Linked DNA regions of Homo sapiens. The protein of the gene in region 1 interacts with the protein of each later gene in a biochemical or structural test. Each region holds a gene or a part of one and is shown in the gene's direction. Other genes may lie near its edges.

Region 1 (3,500 bases):
CAGCCTGGGTGACAAAGCAAGACTCCGTCTCAAAAAAAAAGGACGGGTTCTCATTCTGTCACCCAGGCTGGGGTACCGTGGCACCATCTCGGCTCACTGCAACCTCCGCCTCCTGGGCTCAAGGCCATCCTCCCACCTTAGCCTCCCAAGTATCTGAGACTACAGGCACGTGCTACTGCTCATGGCTGATTTACTTATTTATTTTTGTGCTTTTCATAGAGACAGGTTGTTGTGTTTCTTTAGTCTCCTTTAAGAGTGCAGATGAGCTATTTTGTAGAATGCCCCTCAGTTTTGGGTCATGCATTTTTAACATGAATACCAGAAAAGCACTTCATTGTATTAGAAGGCACTTCTGGAGCCAGGTATGGTGCCTCATGCCGTAATCCCAGCTCTTTGGGAGGCTGAGGCAGGAGGATCATTTGAGCCCAGGAGTTTGAAACCAGCCTGGGCAAATAGTGGGACCCCTTCTCTACAAAAAATTTAAAAATCAACCAGGTGTGGTGGTGTATGCCTGTGGCCCACCTACTGTGTGCCAGCTACTCAGTAGTGCCAGCTACTCAGGACCTGGCTGAGGTGAGAGGATCACCTGAGACAAGGAAGTTGAATTTGCAGTGAGGCATGATTACACCATTGCACTTCAGCCTGAGTGACAGAGTGATGACACCATCTCTTAATTTTAAAAGAGTCAGCTTATATTCCTTGGAGAAACATCTTTTTTGCACCATTGTTATGATTCAGACAGAATCCTTCCATGATTTTTTTTTTTTTTTTTTAATTTTTAGAGAAAGGGTCTCACTCTGTCACCCAGGCTGGAATGCATTGGCTCGGTCACAGCTCACTGCAGCCTCCAATCCCTGGGCTTAAGTGATCCTCCCACCTCAGCCTCCCGAGTAGCTGGGACTGCAGGTGTGAGCCACCATGTGTGGCAAAATAATAATAATAATGATAATAATAATAATAATTAGTTAATACCCAGTGTTGTTGAGGACATGAGGAAATGCATTTTCTTTCACATGCTGCTATTAGGAGTGTAACAGTGCAACTGCAGTCATAGTTCACTGCAGCCTCAAACTCCTGGCCTCAAGCAGTACTCCCACCTCAGCCTCCCAAAGTATCCTCCCATGACTTCTAACAGGATTCCTTTAAAAGAAAACATATTCCTGAAAAATGAATAGGAAAAGAAGATGAGAATTCTTTTATTTTATTTTATTTGTTATGTTATGTTATATGTTATGTTATGTTTTATGTTATGTTTATGTTATGTTATGTTATGTTATGTTATGTTATGTTATGTTATGTTATATGTTATGTTATGTTATTTTTGGAGATGGAGTCTCCCTGTGTTGCCCAGGCTGGAGTGCAGTGGTGCAATCTCGGCTCACTGCAACCTCTGCCTCCTAGGTTCAAGCAATTCTCCTGCCTCTGCCTCCCAAGTAGCTGGAACTATGGGTGCCCACCACCACGCCCGGCTAATTTTTGTAGTTTTAGTAGAGACAGGGTTTCACTATGTTGGCCAGGCTGATCTTGAACTTCTGACATCAGGTGATTCGCCCGTCTCGGCATCCCAAAGTGCTGGGATTACAGACGTGAGCCACCATGCCCAGCTGAGAATATTTTAGAAGAGATTGGTAAAATATGATGGAGCTAGCACACACTCCCCCAAACCCAGAAAAGGTTTTTAGACCTTTTTTCTTTTTCCAGCTCCAATTTATGACAATTCTAAATCTGTCTCTCAAATTGTTTCAAAAAAGGACGGATGTATACTTTGGAAATTCTAATTTAATAAGTTAATCAACTTTGTGGGTTTGTTGTTGTTTTGAGACAGAGTCTCGCTCTGTCACCCAGGCTGGAGTGCAGTGGCACGATCTTGGCTCACTGCAACCTCTGCCTCCTGGGTTCAAGCAATTCTCCTGCCTCAGCCTCCCACGTAGCTGGGATTACGGGCACCCACTACCATGCCCGGCTAATTTTTTTGTATTTTTAGTAGAGATGGGGTTTCACCATGTTGGCCAGGCTAGTCTCAAACTCCTGGCCTCAAGTGATCCGCCCGCCTCGGCCTCCCAAAGTGCTGGGATTACAGGCATTAGCCACTGTGCCCAGCCCAAGTTAATCAACTATGAAGAGAAAAATAAAATCACATAATCTTGGTTGTTCAGCCTCTCATAAGAAAGCCAAATTGTTTTTTGCTTTTCCATGTTGTTTACTTGTATTTCTGAATTGTAGAGTCAAAGGAGAAGTTCAGAGTCCCATCAGCAATGCACCTGTCATACAGGAAGATCTCATCATGTCCTGTAACACCAGATACCATTTTCAGTCTTTTCTCTCTTTCTCCTGCAGGGCTACACCAAGTCCATTGATATTTGGTCTGTAGGCTGCATTCTGGCAGAAATGCTTTCTAACAGGCCCATCTTTCCAGGGAAGCATTATCTTGACCAGCTGAACCACATTTTGGGTAAGGTTCCCGAGCCCTTCAGGAGCTAGATTTACTCAAGTTTGTACAGCTTACATCAAAGTCACTTCATTAAATTAAGAAGAGTTCTAATATACTCTTTAACCTGTGGTAGGTGTGAATTTTTAACCTTCTCTGATTTAAAATGTTAAGGACTTTTGTGTAAAAACATAAGAAAGGTAAACATCAGGAGTGGTGATAAGCAACGGCTCATATCAATTATCAGGGTTCATTCCGACTCAGAGTTGATGGTGTGTAGTCATTTACCTTGGTCCTGATAACTAATAGCTAATTTTTTTATCTGATAGGTATTCTTGGATCCCCATCACAAGAAGACCTGAATTGTATAATAAATTTAAAAGCTAGGAACTATTTGCTTTCTCTTCCACACAAAAATAAGGTGCCATGGAACAGGCTGTTCCCAAATGCTGACTCCAAAGGTAAATGTTATTTCGTTGATTAGTTTTTTCTTAGGCTTAGCTTCGCGTTTATTTGTTAAATTGTTAGGTCACTAGCCTGAAAAATGAGCCTATGGCTATTGGATAATGCTTTCTTTAGTGCTCACTCTGAATTGTTGTCTTCCCCCTTTTTTTTTTTGGAAACAGTGGCAGTGCAGTAAGGGAACCTGGTAATGACGGTCTAGTTCTCCACCTTTTGGTTTCTTTGCTAATTTTAATTTGCATTAAGGTCACTTTTTTTTTGTTTTTGTTTGAGACAGTGTCTCACTCTGTCGCCCAGGCTGGAGTGTAGTGGCCCGATCTCGGCTCACTGCAACCTCCTCCTCCCGGGTTCAAGCGATTCTTCTGCCTCAGCCTCCCAAGTAACTGGGACTACAGACGCGTACCACCACGCCTGGCTCATTTTTGTATTTTTAGTAGAGACAGGGTTTCACCATGCTGGCCAGGCTGGTCTCGAACTCCTGACCTTTTGATCTGCCCACCTTGGCCTCCCAAAACTGGGATTACAGGCGTGAGCCACAGCGTTCAGCCTAAGGTCACATTTTTAGGTCTCAGGAAGTCTAGGACCCTGCAAACAAATTACACCTTTTCAT
Region 2 (3,500 bases), on another chromosome or scaffold:
GAAGAAGAAGAACAAGGGTGGTGTTGCAGTAAAAGCACATCAGGTATGTGCTTTTGGCAGTTTTCTTTTTCTAAAGTCAAGGAAGAAGAGAAAGGCTATAAATAAAGCATGAGTACATTTTTAGTGGCTTAATATCAACTTCTATTGCAGGTGAAAAATCACATGTGGATTTTTGTAAATGCCTTAATTGAAAACCCAACCTTTGACTCTCAGACAAAAGAAAACATGACTTTACAACCCAAGAGCTTTGGATCAACATGCCAATTGAGTGAAAAATTTATCAAAGCTGTGAGTACTTAGAGGAAAATAAAAATAGAAACACCTGACTTTATTTTCCATTGCACTTCTTAGCTCTGCAGAAACAATGATTCTTCTCATAGTGAGCTTCTCCAAGTCTTCCCAATCTGAAAAGGAAGTAAAAAAGGGCTTTACTTTAACTGATTTACCAAAGACTTAATGACCGTCTATATTTCAGTATTTCCCAATTACATTTTACCATTAAGCTTAGATCACTTTTGAATTAATCTAGCTGTTTAACAAACACCCTCACTTAAATGCCTAAGACTTGCTTTCAGTCAACACATCCAAAATTGAATTTGTTACCTCCATACTCACTGATTTGCCCATACAAGCAGCCCCCCACTCTCCAACAAAAAAACAACTTCCTATCTTAGTAAAAAGCCCCAACCAACCTCTAGGTTGTATAAACAAGAAAGCTGGGAGCCTTCCTTTATTTCCCCTCCTCTCTAATCCGGTCAATAAGAATCATCTCTTGGATGCTGCAGTAGCTTCTCACCATTATCTCTTTTTTGGTTTACTACAATAGGTTCTTAACCTTCATACTGGTTAAGTCCTTTCCTTGGAATGCTTTTGAGTGACTTTTGTGTTAAAACACCCATTTTTATCTTCACTCTCATTTGAAATCTTTCAATGACTTCCACTCAGGGAAAGTCCAAATTCCATAATTTGGCCAACAAGAAAGATCTGCTGTAATCTAATTACACCTACTTCTCCAACTCATCTCAGTGCCAGTTTTTCGTATATTGTCCTGTTGCTTTTAAATTACTGAAAAGCACAGTGCTCTTCCCCTCCTCAGAGTTTATTCACATGCTAATCCCTCTGCATGAAATACATCCTTTTCACCTGGCTACTTTAGGTCTTGTCCTTTCCTCAGGAAAGCCTTTACTTTCTACCCTTCCCCCCACCTAAGTTGGTTCCAATATAATATTGAACATACCTTATTAGCAAACTTTTTGCTTATCCATAACACTTATAACACTGTAACTTATTTTATTTCTGTCTTTTTTTTTAGGCAGAGTCTCGCTCTGTCGCCCAGGCTGGAATGCAGTGGCACGATCTCGGCTCACTGCAACCTCCGCCTCCTAGGTTTCAGTGATTCTCTTGCCTCAGCCTCCCGAGTAGCTGAGATTACAGGCATGCATCACCATGCCTGGCTAATTTTTTTGTTGTTGTATTTTCAGTAGAGACAGGGTTTCACCATGTTGGTCAGGCTGGTCTCAAACTCCTGACCTCAAATGATCCACCCATCTCGGCCTTCCAAAGTGTTGGGATTACAGCCATGAGCCACTGTGCCCAGTCTTTTTTTTTTTTTTTTTTGAGACAGAGTCTTGCTGTGTTGCCCAGGCTACAGTGCAGTGACGTAATCCTGGCTCATTGCAATCTCTGCCTCCCAGGTTCAAGCGATTCTCCTTGCCTCCTGAGTAGCTGGGATTCTCCAGCCTCCTGAGTAGCGGGGATTACAGACATGCACCATCACATCCAGCTAATTTTTGTATTTTTAATAGAGATGGGGTTTTACCATGTTGGCCAGGCTGGTCTTGAACTCCTGGCCTCACTTGATCCACCATCCTCGGCCTCCTAAAGTGCTGTGATTACAGGCGTAAGCCACTGCACCCAGCTATGTCTGTCTTCTATGTTGTGTCTTAAACTTGATGAGGACAAGTGTCTCAATTTGTTTTATTTGTGTCTAATTTTATTTATTTATTTTTAATTTTTTTTTTTGGAGACAGCTTCTCACTGTTTCCCAGGCTGGAGTGCCGTGGCTTGATCTCAGTTCACTGCAACCCGCGCCTCCCAGGTTAAAGCAATTCTCCTGCCTCAGCCTCCCAAGCAGCTAGGATTACAGCCATTTCACCACCACCATGCCTGGCTACCCTTTTTTTTTTTTTTTTTTTTTTTTTTGAGACGGAGTTTCACTTTTGTCACCCAGGCTGGAGTGCAATGGTGCGATCTTGGCTCGCTGCAACCTCTACCTCCTGGGTTCAAGCGATTCTCCTGCCTCAGCCTCCCGAGTAGCTGGAATTACAGGTGCCCACCACCACGCCAGCTAATTTTTGTATTTTTAGTAGAGCCGGGGTTTCGCCATGTTGGCCAGGCCGGTCTCAAACTCCTGACCTCAGGTGTTCTGCCCACCTTGGCCTCCTAAAGTGCTGGGATTATAGGCGTGAGCCACCGTGCCTGGTCTAATTTGTTTTAACCACTATATCTCCAACAAGTAGCTCAGTGCTAGCACAATATAATTATATAGTAAATATTTATTGAACGAATGAACCAAAAGGAGCAGCTCCCTCAGTGGTGATAACCTGACATGGGAAGATGTGCCACCCTCTATCCAGAAATTATTGTTCTACATCTTTTTAATTTTTGAATCATTTTTATTTGTATTAAGGCTCATTTGTATTCTAGATTTCTGATAGATCCCTTCTTCCCTAATATGATCCCTAATATGAATCTTCTCGTTTTCAGGCCATTGGCTGTGGTATTGTAGAAAGCATACTAAACTGGGTGAAGTTTAAGGCCCAAGTCCAGTTAAACAAGAAGTGTTCAGCTGTAAAACATAATAGAATCAAGGGAATTCCCAAACTCGATGATGCCAATGATGCAGGTATATATTTAATAATGTTTCCAAACTTTTAAGTCTTATAGTTGTTATTTTATTCATTAATGGCATACCACGGATATTTATTTTTCCCTTGACAGAATAACTATATTCAACAGAATAACTTGTTAAAAATCGGCCCGTTTCCTATTATGGAAGATTTAGGTCATTTCCATGTTATAAATAATATTGAGGTGATTATTTTGGAGTATAAAACAAGAATGTTTATATTATGATCTATTACCTAACAAATAATTTTGCTCATTATATAGTAAATTGTGTTTTATCACAAGGCTATAAACAGCATGTTCAAGTTAGTATATTTGAGGTTGAACTAAATGTGCTAATATTAATATGTATATTTTTATTTTAGGGGGCCGAAACTCCACTGAGTGTACGCTTATCCTGACTGAGGGAGATTCAGCCAAAACTTTGGCTGTTTCAGGCCTTGGTGTGGTTGGGAGAGACAAATATGGGGTTTTCCCTCTTAGAGGAAAAATACTCAATGTTCGAGAAGCTTCTCATAAGCAGGTAGAATATAAGACGATCTTCAGAATCTAAATCTAATTTATAATACAAGACTTTATGCTTATATTTAATT
Region 3 (3,500 bases), on another chromosome or scaffold:
CTTGTGATCTGCCTACCTCCGCCTCCCAAAGTGCTGGGATTATATAAAGAGTGGAATCAGGAAAAGCATATGAATATTCACCCTGAGACACTTATCTCTTTGGCCCCTAACTGTCTGGGCTTTTGAGCAAGTAGCTGGCACTGTGCCTCTGAGGACTACTAAATGCCACCTTCAGCCCAAAAGAAGCCTTGTCAGTCTCTAATCTTCCTTTCCATGCAGATTGCCACTGCCTTGTCTCACGTTCTTCTTTCCTGGGTGACACTGGCTTTCTATTTGTCCCCCTTATCTCACTCTGTCTTTCCTTGAGTCCATCATCTGGTCAACATTTACTGAGCTGAAGCTCCCTGGAGCTTACTCACTGAGCCTAGTAGAGTGCGGTCTACATTCCCATGGAGGAGATAAACCTGCGCTAGGGACTGTGGTAGCTCAGAGGGGCATGTACATCAGACGGAGGCATTCTGGGACTGAGTTTGGTACACCTGGGGTCTGATCTCCTTATGCAGAACATCTACCCTGCAGTCTGCATGACTGTGGTCAAGTCACTTTTCTAAACAAAAATCTGTAGCCTACAGGCTCCCAGATGCTAGCCTGGAGACTGATTCACTAGGTTGGGGTCCCAGAACTTGTATCCTGCTCAAGTTCCCCAGGGGGTTCTGGTGCACAGCTGGGTGTGGGGCCATTACCCCGTGTTGCCTTATTGATTTGATATTTAAGACCCTCTCTTTCCTGGCCTTGCAACCAAACCACCCACTTTTCCGCCACATGCTGTAATTGGAGCGCTCCCCAATCCTCTTACAGGGTTGTTGATTTCCTACACTTTATGCCTTTTTCCATCAGTCCCTTGTGCCTGAGGGCAGGGACCATGTCTTTACCCTGCATCTTCATTGCTCCAAGGACTTTGCACTTAAGGAGCTCTGACAGCATGCCTTAGATGAGCAGATGTGTCAGGGGCCCCGTGGTAGTTGGAATGAACATGGAAATTATCTTTCACAATTCCAATCTCAAAATATATATATATATATAATGTATAAATATATATAATTTATATTTATATATTTATTATATATAAATATAAATATATATATATATATTGCCTAGGCTGGAGTGCAGTGGTCCAATCTCCGCTCACTGTGACCTTTGCTTCCCAGGCTCAAGCTATCCTTCCACCTCAACCTCCCGAGTAGCTGGGTAGCTGGGACTACACGTGCAAGCCACCACATCTGGCTATGTTGTTGTTGTAGAGACAGAGTTTCGTCCTGTTGCCCAGGCTGGTCACGAATTCCTGAGCTCAAGTGATCCACCTGCCTTGGCCTCCCAAAGTGCTGGGATTACAGGTGTGAGCCACCACATCTGGCCTAAAACACTATTACCCAATATTTTTTCATGCCTGTATCTATTTGCAGTAGTTATTCCTGGTTCCTGCTAACCAGTGGATAAAAGCACATCTCTGTGATTTGGGGTAGTTTCTTGAAACACGTCTGTTCTCCCTTCCCAGACACATCATCTCAGAGTTGGAGCACCTGACGTTTGTCAACACGGATGTGGGCCGCTGCCGGGCATGGCTGCGGCTGGCCCTGAACGATGGCCTGATGGAGTGCTACCTGAAGCTGCTGCTGCAGGAGCAGGCCCGCTTGCATGAGTACTACCAGCCCACCGCCCTGCTCCGGGATGCTGAGGAGGGCGAGTTCCTCCTTAGCTTCCTGCAGGGCCTCACGTCCTTGTCCTTCGAACTCTCCTACAAGTCTGCCATCTTAAATGAGTGGACGCTCACCCCATTGGCCCTGTCTGGGCTTTGCCCGCTTTCTGAGCTGGACCCTCTCTCTACCTCTGGTGCAGAACTACAGCGGAAGGAATCTCTGGATTCCATTTCCCATTCTTCAGGCTCTGAAGACATCGAAGTCCATCACTCGGGCCATAAGATACGGAGGAACCAGAAGCTGACTGCCTCCTCCCTCAGCCTGGACACGGCCAGTTCATCCCAGCTGTCCTGCAGCCTAAACTCTGATAGCTGCTTACTCCAAGAGAATGGCTCCAAGAGTCCAGACCATTGCGAGGAGCCCATGTCCTGTGACTCAGACCTGGGCACAGCAAATGCTGAGGACTCAGACCGGTCTCTGCAAGAGTGAGTACGCTGCCCCCACTCCTTCCCATCTTCTCTCTTCCCTCCTTTCTTTCCTCTCCTCCTCCCTTTCTTCCCATAGCATGTGATTGTCTGTTACTGAACTCTATTAGTAATTAAAGAAAGCCAAGGGAGTCATCGACTTCTCCAGGGACTGGAGTAGCTGGGAACTGTAGCAGGCAATACAGGCATAGTGGAGAAAGTGGACTTAGAACAGCTTAGAGCTGGTTTGGGCTCCAGCTCTGCCCCGGTGACTTTTAGCAAGTTACTTGGCCGGGTGCGGTGGCTCATGCCTGAAATCCCAGCACTTGGGAGGCTGATACAGGAGGATTGCTTGAGCCCAGCAGTTCGAGGCCAGCCTGGGCAATGTAGCAAGATCCTGCCTCTAAATTAAAAATAAATAAATAAATAAAACAAAAACTGAAAACAAACAATAACAACAAAAAAACAAGATACTTAGTCTCTACAAGGCACAGTGTAAAATATTGTTGTCTTCATCTAGAAGGAAGGAAACTAATAGGTCAGAGTACATTTAAAACGTCCAACAAATAGATGAAACATAACGCATAAGAGTGTGACTTCACAGAATACCTCCTGGGGGACACAGGACCTGAGTGCTGCATGCAGGAGGTGGTGGACAGGTGGGGACAGACAGATGTGTGGAAGAGTATGTGGGGCAGATGAACTAGGCTGAAGAGAGAACTGGGCAGAGCCTTCTTCACACAGCCTTTTAAACATTTTTTTGCAGCTGGGCACGGTGGCTCACGCCTGTAATCCCAGCACCTTGGGAGGCCAAGGCAGGTGGATCACAAGGTCAGGAGATTGAGACCATCCTGACTAACATGGTGAAACCCCGTCTCTACTAAAAATACAAAAAATTAGCTGGGCATGGTGGCGGGCGCCTTGTAGTCCCAGCTACATGGGCGGCTGAGGCAGGAGAATGGCATGAACCCGGGAGGTGGAGCTTGCAGTGAGCTGAGACCGCACCACTGCACTCCAGCCTGGGTGACAGAGTAAGACTCTGTCTCAAAAAAAAAAAATAAATAAATAAATAAAATAAAAAATTTGCATAGATAATCTTTTTATGGTTAAAAAAAATCTAAAACATATACAGTGAAAGCCTTTCCCATTCCTGTTCTCCCTCTACCCTGTTCTTTCCTCCCACCCCTAAAACCATAATAATTTCCTGTATATTCTTCCAAATTTCTAAATGCATCTACAACAAATACCAGTATAAAGATTTTCAGCTGGGCGCAGTGGCTCACGCCTGTAATCCCAGCACTTTGGGAGGCCGAGGCGGGCGGATCACAAAGGCAAGAGATCGAGACCTTTCTGGCTAACACGGTGAAACCCCATCTCTACTAAAAATACAAAAAATTAG
Region 4 (3,500 bases), on another chromosome or scaffold:
ATGGGCAAAAACTGGAAGCATTCCCTTTGAAAACTGGCACAAGACAGGGATGCCCTCTCTCACCGCTCCTATTCAACATAGTGTTGGAAGTTCTGGCCAGGGCAATCAGGCAGGAGAAGGAAATAAAGGGTATTCAATTAGGAAAAGAGGAAGTCAAATTGTCCCTGTTTGCAGACGACATGATTGTTTATCTAGAAAACCCCATCGTCTCAGCCCAAAATCTCCTTAAGCTGATAAGCAACTTCAGCAAAGTCTCAGGACGGAATCATTTTTTAAAAAAATTGGCCGGGCGCGGTGGCTCACGCCTGTAATCCCAGCACTTTGGGAGGCCAAGGCGGGTGGATCACCTGAGGTCAGGAGTTCGAGACCAGCCTGGCCAACATGGTGAAACCCCGTCACTAAAAAAAAAAAAGCCGAGTGTGGTGGCATGCGCTTGTAATCCCAGCCACTCGAGAGGCTGAGGCAAGAGAATCGCTTGAACCCGGGAGGTGGAGGTTGCATTGAGCCGAGATCACGCCACTGCACTCCAGCCTGGGCTACAAAAGCGAAACTCCGTCACACACACACAAAAAACAATCAACCAACCAAACAAAAAACACCTATGCCTCTTCCGGTAGTTGATCTGCTGAAGAATCCTCCTCTAACAGCATTTAGTGCTTAACGCACAAGTGAGCTGGGCACGGTGGCTTACGACTGTAATTCCAGCACTGTGGGAGGCCGAGGAGGAGGATCATTTGTGGCCAGGAGTTCAAGGCCAGCCTGGGCAACATAGTGAGACCCAGTCTACAAAAAGAAAAAAAAAATAGCCGGCCATCGTGGCGCGTGCCTATGGTCCCAACTTACTTGGGAAGGATGAAGGAGGGAATCTTGAGCCTATGAGGTGGAGGCTGCAGTGAGCCATGATTGCTCCACTGTACTCCAGCCTGGGGATAGAGCTAAAGACTGTCTCTAAAAGAAAATCAACAAATGGCTCACTATTGTTCATTGTTTCAAATACAAACTTCCAAACCTGGATGTCTATTTTTAGTAACCTCATTTTTTGATATTTCTGCTAAGCAAATATGCCAATAAATAGCTTGTTTATTTTTACCTCTGCACCTTCCCAGGAGAATTTCTTATTAGAGGGAAGCTGTCTACAAAACTCCCTTCCTCACAGCCTTGCACTTTGACCCAGTAATACTGCTTCCAGAAATCTAGGCCGGACATGCATAAAAATTTATGTTCTACATAGCAATTATTGATAAAAGTGGAACACTGGAAACAAAGATCTAAATATCTTGCAATATGGGATTGTTAAATAAATTATGGTCCATGTAGTATAGACACAGAAATACCAGGTAGCTATTAAAATGGTGTTGTAGTCTTCAATTTTTTTTTAAGGTACCTATTCCTGGTATAGGTTTGTTGTAGCCTTCTATTTTTATACCATAGGAAATTGTGCAAACTACATTGTCAAGTTAAAAAAATAAAGATAATCATTTCTTCTGGTGACATGTAATAGATGCAAAAACGATGTGGTTTCATTTTTTCATTAGAAAGTATAATAGGCGTGGTAGCTCACACCTGTAATCCCAGTACTTTGAGAGGCTGAGGCGGGCAGCTCGCTTGACCACAGGAATTTGAGATCAGCCTGGGCAATGTGACGAAACCCCATCTCTACGAAAAATACAAAAACAAAATTGAGCTGGGCCTGTAGTCTTGGCTACCCAGGATGCTGAGGTGGAAGGATCACCTGAGTCTGGTCAAGGCTGCAGTGAGCCATGATTGCGCCACTGCACTTCATCCAGCCTGGGCGAGAATGAGACCCCGTCTCAAAGAAAAAAAAAAAAAGTATAATAATACCCAGCTCATTACATCATTAAACAAAGTGGGGAGGGCTTGCATGAACTGGTGACAAAGGTGTAGCTTCTACAAAGGATTATGATGAATACAGCTATAGCACCTGAGGTCCAGAAAAACGAACAAAAAACTTCTGTTAAACTTATCTCCTTAACAATTCATTTTTTGATTCTCTTTTCTCTTCTTCTTACAAATTAGTTTAAACCTGAATAAAATCTTTTAATTCAAGCTTTTGTAATATGGAACTTGTACATTATTGAGTAAAACATTTAAAAGTCATGGTAAATGTTAAAATAACTGAGGTTTTATGACAAAATTGAGTCCTTCACATCACATGGGAAAGAATATAAGATTAATCACTGGATTCATTGATTAATTTTTTTGCGTATAAAAGATTTTTTTTTTTTTTTTTTGAGATGGAGTCTTGCTCTGTCACCCAGGCTGGAGTGCAGTGGACCGATCTCGGCTCACTGCAAGCTCCGCCTCCCGGGTTCATGCTATTCTCCTGCCTCAGCCTCCCGAGTACCTGGGACTACAGGCGCCCGCCACCATGCCCGGCTAATTTTTTGTATTTTTCTTAGTAGAGACGGGGTTTCACCATGTTAGCCAGGATGGTCTCGATCTCCTGACCTCATGATCTGACCACCTAGGCCTCCCAAAGTGCTGGGATTACAGGTGTGAGCCACCACGCCTGGCAGCATATAAAAGATTTTTAAGCCTATGAACTTGATTATCTCACTATGACCTGTAATGTTTTTCAAAATGTGTAAGAGCATTTATATCTTAGGGTATACAGTGTGTCTATTGAAATAAATAAAATGGCATATCTTTAAAAATAATTATGGTGAAGTCATTTTGATAGACTAAATTTTGCCTATGCTGTCTTGATTTTGAAATTTGGTACGTTGCGTGGTTACAGTTTGTGAAGCACTTTTCATTTGGGTAACCTCTACTCTCTCCAGTTGCACTTAAAGTCACTTAAAGCCACAGAGAGGTTTTTCTACCTTCAGCACCCATTTTAGGACAATTTCTGGTAATTGCTAAGTAAATGTCAGCTAGTTGACTTCCTGCCTGACCTGTCTTGGCCTGTTTCCTGCTCATTAGCATCTCCACTAGAGGGCAGGCTGGGCTGCTGAGGAGAGAAGGAAAGGAGTGTTTTCATTCTCTAGCTAACCCTGTCCTCCTCTCCTCTACTGCAGCTCCCAGCTTGGTGACCACACAGAGCTCCTGGGACAGTTCCGTGTTTGGAGTGACTGATGCTCATACATGTGTTTGAACATTGCCTTATAGTATTCTCTGTGTCGATGGAAATGGAGAGTGTGCTAATAATTTACCTAGGGACTTAAAATGTGTTGACTAGAAAGCCACTAAGTAACTATGGGATGTTCTAATACTCTCATGTCTTGTGTCTGTAAGAATCAGATTTTTCTGTGTGTAGGGTAGGAGCTATAGATGTAATATAAGTAAATACCCTTTAGTGGCCCGGGGTAGTGGCTCACACCTGTAATCCCAGCACTTTGAGAGGCTGAGGCAGGTGGATTGCTTGAAACCAGGAGTTCAAGACCAGCCTGGGCAACATAGTGAGACCCCATCTCTAAAAAAAAAAAAAAAATTAGCCAGGTGTGGTGGCTTACACCTGTAGCTACTCGGGAGGCTGAGGC
Region 5 (3,500 bases), on another chromosome or scaffold:
TCTCTGCAAGAGTTATAAGCTGAATGTTTAGTCTTACTACTTGAGCTTTGTAATAATGTGGAAGATTATCAAAGGTAAAAAGATTTTATCAGAGTGCATGTTTTGAAAGAAAGAGGGTGGGGAGGGTTAGGCCTCAGTGTCTATAAATGAAAAGCATTTTAGAGTTTTAATATTTGACCATGTGATATCTCAGTACATTTATGATATCCTAATCCTTTGAAACTAAGGTTTAATGGTCTGTAGCACTTGAAAGAGGAATGTAGTGATCATTAGACGTGATGTAATAGAAATAGCCTTGTACATGGAGTCAGAAGAACTTGCTCTGAGACTGTGTATGGTTTTAGGTAAGCTATTTAAACTCTAATCAGTTTTTTTCATCATAAAAAGGATAAGACATTATTATCTTGTCTCATGGCGTTGTCAGGAGGATCAAATGGGATAATATACACAGGTGAGCTAGCTCAGCCCCTTTATTTTACAGATGAGGAAGCTGAAGCCAGAGAAGGTTCTACAAACTTAAGAGTCAGACAGACCTGAGACCAAGGCTTACCTCTATTAGTTTTGTACTCTACATTCCTGAACGAATTGTTCAACCTCTCTCAGCTTTAAAATGGAGATAATAGTATCTTATAAGACTGTTGCCGGGCGCGGTGGCTCACGCCTGTAATCCCAGCACTTTGGGAGGCCGAGGTGGGCGGATCACGAGGTCAGGAGATCGAGACCATCCTGGCTAACACAGTGAAACCCCGTCTCTACTAAAAAACACAAAAAATTAGCCGGGTGTGGTGGCGGGCGCCTGTAGTCCCAGCTACGCGGGAGGCTGAGGCAGGAGAATGGCGTGAACCCGGGAGGCGGAGCTTGCAGTGAGCCGAGATCGCGCCACTGCACTCCAGCCTGGGCGACAGAGCGAGACTCCGTCTCAAAAAAAAAAAAAAAGACTGTTGAGGAATTAATGAGCGTATGTATATATATATATATGTGTGTGTGTATATATATATATACATATATATATATATAATGCCTAGTTTAGCATATAATACATGCTACACCCTTTCCTACAGATATTATAAATGACGTGTACAGGGTTTTATACATTGCTAACAGCATTAAGACTAGAAAATCAAGGCCCTTGACTTGGGTTCAGTGTTCTTTCTGCCACACTCTGTTCTGTTTTGTCAATAATGCTTATTAACTTATTCTTTGATGTTTTTTTAAACAAATGTTGACTTTTTAAAATTCTTCTGAGGGTATATATTTGATACTCAAATATTTAATTATAGCATTTGAATACTTAGATGTCTTTAAAAATGAATGTAGTTCCTAAAAGTTGTCAGTTTTTAAAATTAATACAAGTTAAAAGCTGGTTTATAAACCTTAGGTAGTTTTACCTCTTATTTCATATTTCTACTTATGAAGCGAATGTATTAGCCCCACAATTTATAATTTATTTTAAAGGTAATTTTATCAGGTACATATAACTACAGGTCAAATCCTATTGTAAACAATGCCACTAAAATTTTCTGTCATGTTGTATGGAAGGAGTGTGTGTACACATGTATATTTGTATTAGGTATCACTTCAAATTAAGTCACCAGTAAATGTTTAGAAATAGTATTGTTTTATAGAATTATAAAAAATTATTATTACAGTGAGATTAACCTGTAATGTTTCTCTCCTGTCTTTTGGAGTATTGGTTATACTGTATTCTCTCTATACTGTTCGGGGGAGGGGGAGTCATTGCACACACACACGCACGCATGCGTGCACATATGTATTTTTTTCTCCCTGAAAGTAACATTTTCACTAGAACAAGTATAACTGTAATTGGCACAGCTGTAAAGGTTCTCAAGGCTTTGAAGAGCAAAAAGAAAACTAAAATATTCTCAAATTTTTTTCTTCCCAGGGAAGTCGAGACAACATGAGTGTGATTTTGATCTGTTTTCCAAATGCACCCAAAGTATCGCCAGAAGCAGTGAAGAAGGAGGCAGAGTTGGACAAGTACCTGGAATGCAGAGTAGAAGGTGGATCATTTAACAAAAAATAAGTAGCTTTATTAAAGAAAAATCTTCAACACAATCAAACTTTAACATTTTAGCTTTTAGATTTTTATGTGTCTTTGACAGCTAGTGTCTAGTGTATGAAAGTGGAAAAGGACATTTCTGTAGTAGCTGTTAAGATGTATGCAGTTGTCCTATCACAGTTATATTAGAAATAACAACTAGTGTGGAAAGTAACCCACATTCTGTTCAGGATACTTTTGTTTTAAAAGGCTAAAATGTTTGTGTGCTTTAAAATTCTTAATGAATTCACTGGCATGAGTAATTTTATGCCGGGAAAATCTGATTTGTGGTCTATTTAATTACAAAGAGATTGTGATGGTGATAATTTGAATACCATCTTTCTATGAAAAGCTGTGTATATTAATTTTAATCTCTAGGGCCTTTTTTCAATAACTTGAAAATCACAGCCTCATCATTAGCAACTTTATATACACAGCTTTAAAAAATTTGCTTTAAACTGTTTCAGAGCTTCTTCCCTAAGCCATAAACTGTCTCACCTAAACAAGATAGACCTCAATAAAAGACATAATATTTCTCCACCTGGCAGAAAAGTAACTGCCAAGTAAGATTAAGAAATAAGTTGAGCATTTCTGGAGTATATTTCTCATAATTCTGCAGAGACTTCCAGTTTATTGCATATATGCAGTAAAGTGTATATATTATGCAGTTTCTCTAAGTGGAAAAACTTGACATGACTTTAATAGTGTTAAAACATGAAAATGCTGGTGAGCTGAGGTAGAAAAAAAACAAGAAAAAAATTTTAAAAATAGCGTTAAAATGCATTTTAGGCTCCTAATGTCGTTAATTTGCACGTTAAAGACCTCTAATCGCATGCAAGCATTGACCTACCACACCTACATCCCACTGTGCCTGCATTATTGAAATTACTACTCACTTTAATTTTTTTTCCCCTTTTTACTGTTTGATACCAATCATAATCAGTCTGATACTAGAATCATGATTGGTTTTGTTCTTTAGTACTGTCTAGAGCTACTATTTTGTTTTTATTGCTGTCCGCCACTTGATAGTCATACATCTAGTATGTGTTTGTACTATTTAGTATTGCATTCATTGGACGTACTATTCAACGAATTTGTCTCCTTACTGTTACCAAGGGTCTTGGAATTTTTATATTTTAAATTAATCATTCAATATAAGTTATTTATAGGTATAGTACAATTTTAAAATATTTAGAATGCTACAATCATTGGTTCAAACTATTGATTCATGGGAAAATTTAAATTCATAAGAATAATATGTATAGGGATAAGTTGATATTTAATGTATTGGCACTTTAACTTGGGCAGACATGTTTTCTTATTGGTTTAAAGAAGTAATAAGTATTTTAATATTTTTACTATGAAATGGGATCCAATTTTAGAAATGAATTGCTACTTTTCTCTTTAGTGTGTACACTTTAAGTTTTAGATGGAATTATGA
Region 6 (3,500 bases), on another chromosome or scaffold:
CTCCAAGAGGTGCCTGTGGTCAGCAGAGGAGGGACCTTGTTCCACTGAGGCAGGAAGATGAGAGAGACACTGGGTTCTCTGATGGGTTCACCAGCAGACCCTGTGAAATTCATAATGGCCCCTAAGGTAGGGGTTGCCTGACATGTTCAACTTGGATTTAACCCTTAAGGCATAAGAAGCCGCTGAAAATGTTCAGACGTTACAAAACTAGGGCCGGGCACGGTGGCTCACGGCTGTAATCCCAGCACTTCGGGAGGCTGAGGCGGTTGGATCACCTGAGGTCAGCAGTTCAAGACCAGCCTGACCAACATGGTGAAACCCCGTCTCTACTAAAAATACAAAAAAAAAAAAAATAGCCAGGCGTGGTGGTGCGTGCCTGTAATCCCAGCTACTCGGGAGGCTGAGGCAGGAGAATCACTTGAACCTGGGATACAGAGGTTGCAGTGAGCCGAGATTGCGCCGCTGCGCTCCAGCCACAGAGCGAGAAACTGTCTCAAAAAAAAAAAAAGAAAGAAAAGAAAAAACCGGCGAGGACTGAGGTAAACCACAAAATTGTCCAGGCTTTTTATGTGGAGGGAATTTGCAGACTCACGTGCAGAGAACCCAACAAACCCAGACTTTGGGGCAGCTGAGGCAGCTAGAATGTGTGGGGTGTGGTACCAGAAAGGAAGGAGTTACGCCCAAAACAAAGAGCTCCAGCAATCTGCGCGTGAGCCCGCTTGCATCTTGGGTTGGATCCGATTTGCTGGTGCACACAGTGAAACCTCGTGGAGCTGGACCAAGAGCAACTTGAAGGGGAAGAGTAAGTGTAAGGGGACAGATGAGCAGGACTCACACAGGGCCGTGGTTATTTCAGTTCCCACCAGCCAGAGTATAGAAGCCACTTTAAATACAAGGAGCTTTCATGACACCTTAGAGGAAACACAGCTTGGAAGTGGCGCAGAATAAGCTGCAGAGGAAAGGCCACTCCAATGCCGTGGAAACAAGTGCAAGGCAAGCCCTGGAAACACCACTGCCTGCTAGCACGGAGTACACACAGCACTCTTGAGAGAAGGAAGCCAGGCGAAGTGGCTCACACCTGTAATCCCAGCACTTTGGGAGGCCGAAGCAGGCGGATTATCTGAGGTCAGGAGTTCAAGACCAGCCTGGCCAATATGGTGAAACGCCGTCTCTACTACAAAAAATTAGCCATGTGTGGTGATGGGCGCCTGTGGTCCCAGCTACTTGGGAGGCTGAGGCAAGAGAACCACATGAGCCCGGGAGGCAGAGGTTGCAGTGAGCCGAGATCGCATCACTGCACTTCAGCCTGGGCAACAGAGCAAGACTCCTTCTAAAAAAAAAAAAAAAAATTCACGTCCAGAATCTAATCAGTCATGGGCAGACAAGCCAAAGCAGAAAAATGGACTTGTCACTGGAGGGGGTCCAGTAGCAGGCCCAGTTTTGATAGGATTAGCCAACAAAGACAGTAAACAATTATAAAAATGTTCCCTGTGCTCAAAGAAATAACACAAAAATGTGACTGAGGGCTGGGCGTGGTGGCTCACACCTGTAATCCCAGCACTCTGGGAGGCCGAGGCGGGTGGATCACGAGGTCAGGAGATCAAGACCATCCTGGCTAACATGGTGAAACCCCGTCTCTACTAAAAATACAAAAAATTAGCCGGGCGTGGTGGCGGGCACCTGTAGTCCCAGCTCCTCCAGAGGCTGAGGCAGGAGAATTGCTTGGACCCGGGAGGTGGAGCTTGCAGTGAGCCAAGATCGTGCCACTGCACTCCAGCCTGGGTGACAGAGCGAGACCCCGTCTCAAAAAATAAGAAAACATGACTGAGAAATGGAAGATACAGAAAAGAAGCAAGTTGGACAAAATGTCACTGGAACTAATCTCCCAAGTAGAAGAATTCCACATTGTTTACTGAGATAGTTCCCCTTCGAGGAGGTGATGCTTAACTCCTCACTCCAGAAGCCTGGGCTTTACCTAGTGACCCTCTTCCAAAGAGCAGAGCACAGAAGCAGGAGGAGCAGCTTTCCAGTGGAGACCTCCAGCAACACAGCCTCACCAGGGACCATGCTCACCATCAGCAGTGACATGCGTATCACTGTTGTGTACTCTTTTTTTTTTTTTTTTTTTTTTTGAGACGGAGTCTCGCTCTGTTGCCAGGCTGGAGTGCAGTGGCACAATCTCGGCTCACTGCAACCTCCACCTCCCAGGTCCAAGCAATTCTCCTGCCTCAGCCTCCCACGAAGCTGGGACTACAGGCACCCGCCACCTCGCCCGGCTAATTTTGTTGTATTTTTAGTAGAGATGGGGTTTCACCGTGTTAGCCAGGATGGTCTCAATCTCCTGACCTCGTGATCCGCCCACCTTGGCCTCCCAAAGTGTTGGGCGCGTCAGCCACCGCGCCCGGCCTGTTGTGTACTCTTGATAGGATGATGAGAACAGCACTCTACCTCTTTGATCTTCCTCCCAAAAACATACGTAACCCCAGCTAATGATGAAAAAACATCAAACAAATCCAAATTGAGAGACATTCCACAAACTGTTTGACGAGTCCTCAAAATTGTCAAGGTTCTCAAAAACTAGGCAAGTCTGAAAGGTGCCAGAGTCAGTGGGACTGAAGAAGATGTGACAACTGGATGGATTTTGGATGATGTCCTGGAGCAGAGGAAGGATTGGGTAAAAAGCTAAGGAATCTGATTAGAATGTGGGTCCTAGTTAACAATGTGTCTAATGTTCTTGAGACAACTGTACCACACAAAGGCAGGATGTTAATGATGGGGGACACTGGTGTAGGGCATGTATTCTAAAGTAAAAAGGTGGTTCTTCAGAGTCACCGGAGCGGTTTAACAAAACATTAGAAACTTCAGAAGAAAAGATTCCTGAACTAAAAGCAATGGAAACTGTCCACAGTGATGTACAGGGAGAAAAAGGACTGCAAAAACTTAGCCGAGCTTCAAGGACATAATATCATGTGGTCTAACGTATTTGAGGTTCCAGAAAACAGTGGGGAAGAGAATACAGAAATATGACCAAAAGGCTGGACACGGTGGCTCCTGCCCGAAATCCCAGCACTCTGGGAGGCTGACATGGGTGGATCGCTTGAGCCCAGGAGTTCAAGACCAGCCTGGGCAACATAGCAAGACCCTGTCTCTATAAATAATACAAAAATTAGCCGGGCGTGGTAGTGCCTGCCTGTGGTCCCAACTACTCGGGAGGCTGAGGCGGGAGGATCACCTGAGTGCAGGAGGTGGAGGCTGCAGTGAGCCATGATCGTACCACTGCACTCCAGCCTGGGCAACAGAGCCCTGTCTCAAAAAAAAAATTATGGCCAAAATTTTTCCCAAATTTTTGAAAAGCTGTAAGCTCACAAATCCAAGAATATCAGTCTTAAGCAGGATAAAACCAAAACCATATCAAGGTACATTATATAATCAAAGTGCTGGAACAGGCTGGTGAAGAGAAAATCTTAAAAGCTCCAGAAGAGGCCGGGCGCGGTGGCTCA
Region 7 (3,500 bases), on another chromosome or scaffold:
ATTTTCTTGCCTTTTTTTTTTTTTTTTTTTTTTTTAAATTGGGTCTCATTCTGTCACCAGGCTGGATATTCCAGTGGTGCAGTCAGAGCTCTTTGCAGCCTTGACCTCCTGAGCTCCTACCTCAGCCCCCTGAGTAGCTGGGTCTACTAGGTGCAAGCCACCACATCGGGCTAATTTTTTTTTTTAAAGAGTTGGGATCTTACTGTGTTGCCCAGGCTGGTCTTGAGCTCCTGAGCTCAAGCAGTCCTCCCACCTCAGCCTCCTCAGTTGTTGGGATTATAGGCATGTGCCACCACACCCAGCTAAAAGTTACTTATTCAGGAGGCTGAGGCATACAAATAGCTTGAACCCAGGAGGCAGAGGCTGCAGTGAGCCGACATGGTGCCACTGCAGTCCTGCCTGAGCCACAGAGCTGGGCTTGAAAGTTATTTTCTAATAAAAACTATTTTATGGTAGGTTTTGTGGATTATTGAATACAATCTGGCATTCTGTTTAATATGTATGTTTTCCTGAATGAGGGGGTACATTGTAATTTTAATTATTAAACTCACAATGTTTTTGGTTTTAAAAATAAAAATTTTAGGAGCAAGCAGTGTTCCTGCCTTCTTTTCTGAAGATGATTCTCAATCGAATGACTCAAGTGATTCTGATAGCAGTAGTAGTCAGAGTGACGACATAGAACAGGAGACCTTTATGCTTGATGAGCCATTAGAAAGAACCACAAATAGCTCCCATGCCAATGGTGCTGCCCAAGCTCCCCGTTCAATGCAGTGGGCTGTCCGCAACACCCAGCATCAGCGAGCAGCCAGTACAGCCCCTTCCAGTACATCTACACCAGCAGGCAAGTCTGAAAACTTAGTATTGCTAAGAATACTTAGATAGATTTTTTAAATTATGCATGTTCATCTGGGGATAAAATTAGTTTTATGATAGTTCCTCATTGTTTTGTTGAGTTTCAAATATAAAAAATATGTACATATGATTATAGCAGGGTTTCCCAGTCTTTGCATTATTGCATCTTTGGACTGGGTAATTGTGGGAGGCTGTCTTGTGCATTGTGGGATGTTAGGCAGCATCCCTAGCCTACACCCACTAGATGCCAGTGAAACCCCTCTCACCCTTCTTCCCCTCCCCTTGGCTCCCACAGTTGTGATAACCAAGAATGTCTGTAGATACTGCCAAATGTGTAGCCCCTTTGGCGGGGGGAGGTGGCGTGGGGGTCAGATTTCCCCTGGTTGAGAACTTTATATTAATTCTTGTCCCCTCCATACTCCTCTCCCCAAAATAGTGTGGTTTAGGCAAAGTTTTTTGCTTGGGTACCACAATTGACCATTTAGATTTACGTAAGTATATATAATCCCAGAGAAACACAATTAGCAACTGACATTAGCTCATTGTGGTTGTCCTTTTTCCTTATAGCAAGTTCAGCGGGTTTGATTTATATTGATCCTTCAAACTTACGCCGGAGTGGTACCATCAGTACAAGTGCTGCAGCTGCAGCAGCTGCTTTGGAAGCTAGCAACGCCAGCAGTTACCTAACATCTGCAAGCAGTTTAGCCAGGGCTTACAGCATTGTCATTAGACAAATCTCGGACTTGATGGGCCTTATTCCTAAGTATAATCACCTAGTATACTCTCAGATTCCAGCAGCTGTGAAATTGACTTACCAAGATGCAGTAAACTTACAGGTATGAAACCACTGAAAAGTTTCCCATTCCACTATTTTTTTTTGGCTGTCAATTATGAGAATTCCAGTATTAGGGGAATTAAATGTTAGAAACGTTTACATATTGACATACTGCTGCTGTATCGAATTTAGCTCTATTTGGATAGTTTTAACTATTTTAGTTTGGTCTTCATAGAACTATGTAGAAGAAAAGCTTATTCCCACTTGGAACTGGATGGTCAGTATTATGGATTCTACTGAAGCTCAATTACGTTATGGTTCTGCATTAGCATCTGCTGGTGATCCTGGACATCCAAATCATCCTCTTCACGCTTCTCAGAATTCAGCGAGAAGAGAGAGGATGACTGCGCGAGAAGAAGCTAGCTTACGAACACTTGAAGGCAGACGGTATGAAATTCTTCATATATACAGAACGTCCCCAACTTAAAATGGATCCTCAACTTACAATTTTTTGTTTGTTTGTTTGTTTGTTTTTTTGAGACGGAGTCTCACACTCTTACCCAGGCTGGAGTGCAGTGGTGCCGTCTCGGCTCACTGCAAGCTCCGCCTCCTGGGTTCATGCCATTCTCCTGCCCCAGCCTCCCGAGTAGCTGGGACTACAGGCACTTGCCACCCACGCCCGGCTAATTTTTTGTTTTCTTAGTAGAGACGGGGTTTCACTGTGTTAGCCATGGTGGTCTTGATCTCCTGACCTTGTGATCTGCCCACCCTGGCCTCCCAAAGTGCTGGGATTACAGGCGTGAGCCACAGCGCCCGACCCCCAACTTACATTTTTTTTTTGACTTTGTGATGGGTTTATTGGGGGTATTAAATGCGTTTAGACTTTATGCGTTTATGATGAGTTTATCAGGACATAACCACATCTTCAGTCAAGGAGTATCTATACTTGCATGTTTAGATAGAATCTTTGTATCCTAGAAGGTTAAAGCTTTTTAGTTGCTATTATGTAAGACCTCATCTTACTGTGAAGGGAGAAAGAAATGACTTGCTTGCATTACTTAAATTGTTGAGGCAGAATAGGCTAGTTATCATCCAAGCTGTTTTTAAAAATCCATTCATATCGTAGGAATCTGATACTAAAGCCTTTTTATTTTTGAAGTTATTGGTCTATATCTTTGTCTCATTATCCCCAAGACCTCCCCCTCTCCTCTTAGGAAGTTATTTTGACTATAATTGGTTATGAATGTACTTTGTACTCAGGAGGGGGAAAGTATGTGTGATTACCAGTGCTGCTCTTTTTTTCTCAAATCACATTTCTTTTTTTCTGCCTCCCCTAGTCTGTTGAATTAAAATAAAATATATATCTATGTATTTGTTATGTTCTTTCTATTCAGTTATAAAGTGACCTTTTTCAGGAGTAGGTATCAGCTCAAATATTGAACATCAGAGCAATAGCAGTAATATAGTAAAAGTGCCTCATACCTGAAGTCAAAATCCAAGGATTTGGTTCTGTCTCTACCTCAGGATAAACAACTTTGTTACTCTGGGCAGATCATAAAGTGAGGAAAGACAAAGGTCTAAGAGATTACTTAGAAAGACAGTGATAGGCATCTACAGTAGAGGTAATAGTTACTAAAGTAGGGCAGTGAAGACCAAAAGGAGGGGAGAGAAGCATTGAAATAAAAAACAGAATTTAGGGCCTTGTTGAGGGATTAAGTAGCAGGGGCATCATTTATATTTAAACCTTGATCCTGAGTAACTAATAGGAAAATTAAAGAGAAAAACCTAAGAGTAGTATAATGGACAAACTTGCTTTTGAACATGTGAGAACTGGGGGAAAAAAAATGGTAGAAATGTCAAATGTGCAGAATTG

What was found.
Region 2: the proteins of MAPK1 (region 1) and TOP2A form a complex in vitro, tested with the Homo sapiens proteins (one study listed by BioGRID).
Region 3: of the proteins of MAPK1 (region 1) and PLEKHM1, one has a biochemical effect on the other in vitro, tested with the Homo sapiens proteins (one study listed by BioGRID).
Region 4: of the proteins of MAPK1 (region 1) and NRL, one has a biochemical effect on the other in vitro, tested with the Homo sapiens proteins (one study listed by BioGRID).
Region 5: the proteins of MAPK1 (region 1) and PPM1A form a complex in vitro, tested with the Homo sapiens proteins (one study listed by IntAct).
Region 6: the proteins of MAPK1 (region 1) and HSF1 form a complex in vitro, tested with the Homo sapiens proteins (one study listed by BioGRID).
Region 7: of the proteins of MAPK1 (region 1) and UBR5, one has a biochemical effect on the other in vitro, tested with the Homo sapiens proteins (one study listed by BioGRID).

The regions. Positions count from the first base shown.
Region 1 is NC_000022.11:21,787,646-21,791,145, reverse strand, and holds part of MAPK1 (mitogen-activated protein kinase 1), read left to right. Parts: intron 1-2,337; coding exon 2,338-2,452; intron 2,453-2,757; coding exon 2,758-2,889; intron 2,890-3,500. UniProt on the Homo sapiens protein: Serine/threonine kinase which acts as an essential component of the MAP kinase signal transduction pathway. MAPK1/ERK2 and MAPK3/ERK1 are the 2 MAPKs which play an important role in the MAPK/ERK cascade.
Region 2 is NC_000017.11:40,407,897-40,411,396, reverse strand, and holds part of TOP2A (DNA topoisomerase 2-alpha), read left to right. Parts: coding exon 1-43; intron 44-150; coding exon 151-288; intron 289-2,766; coding exon 2,767-2,905; intron 2,906-3,272; coding exon 3,273-3,430; intron 3,431-3,500. UniProt on the Homo sapiens protein: Key decatenating enzyme that alters DNA topology by binding to two double-stranded DNA molecules, generating a double-stranded break in one of the strands, passing the intact strand through the broken strand, and religating the broken strand.
Region 3 is NC_000017.11:45,473,722-45,477,221, reverse strand, and holds part of PLEKHM1 (pleckstrin homology domain-containing family M member 1), read left to right. Parts: intron 1-1,308; exon of another isoform or gene 1,309-1,334; intron 1,335-1,495; coding exon 1,496-2,122; intron 2,123-3,500. UniProt on the Homo sapiens protein: Acts as a multivalent adapter protein that regulates Rab7-dependent and HOPS complex-dependent fusion events in the endolysosomal system and couples autophagic and the endocytic trafficking pathways.
Region 4 is NC_000014.9:24,108,450-24,111,949, reverse strand, and holds part of NRL (neural retina-specific leucine zipper protein), read left to right. Parts: intron 1-3,500. UniProt on the Homo sapiens protein: Acts as a transcriptional activator which regulates the expression of several rod-specific genes, including RHO and PDE6B. Also functions as a transcriptional coactivator, stimulating transcription mediated by the transcription factor CRX and NR2E3.
Region 5 is NC_000014.9:60,283,721-60,287,220, forward strand, and holds part of PPM1A (protein phosphatase 1A), read left to right. Parts: intron 1-1,903; coding exon 1,904-2,021; coding exon of another isoform or gene 2,022-2,044; exon of another isoform or gene 2,045-3,500. UniProt on the Homo sapiens protein: Enzyme with a broad specificity. Negatively regulates TGF-beta signaling through dephosphorylating SMAD2 and SMAD3, resulting in their dissociation from SMAD4, nuclear export of the SMADs and termination of the TGF-beta-mediated signaling.
Region 6 is NC_000008.11:144,298,104-144,301,603, forward strand, and holds part of HSF1 (heat shock factor protein 1), read left to right. Parts: intron 1-3,500. UniProt on the Homo sapiens protein: Functions as a stress-inducible and DNA-binding transcription factor that plays a central role in the transcriptional activation of the heat shock response (HSR), leading to the expression of a large class of molecular chaperones, heat shock proteins (HSPs), that protect cells from cellular insult damage.
Region 7 is NC_000008.11:102,283,701-102,287,200, reverse strand, and holds part of UBR5 (E3 ubiquitin-protein ligase UBR5), read left to right. Parts: intron 1-583; coding exon 584-841; intron 842-1,419; coding exon 1,420-1,688; intron 1,689-1,862; coding exon 1,863-2,074; intron 2,075-3,500. UniProt on the Homo sapiens protein: E3 ubiquitin-protein ligase involved in different protein quality control pathways in the cytoplasm and nucleus. Mainly acts as a ubiquitin chain elongator that extends pre-ubiquitinated substrates.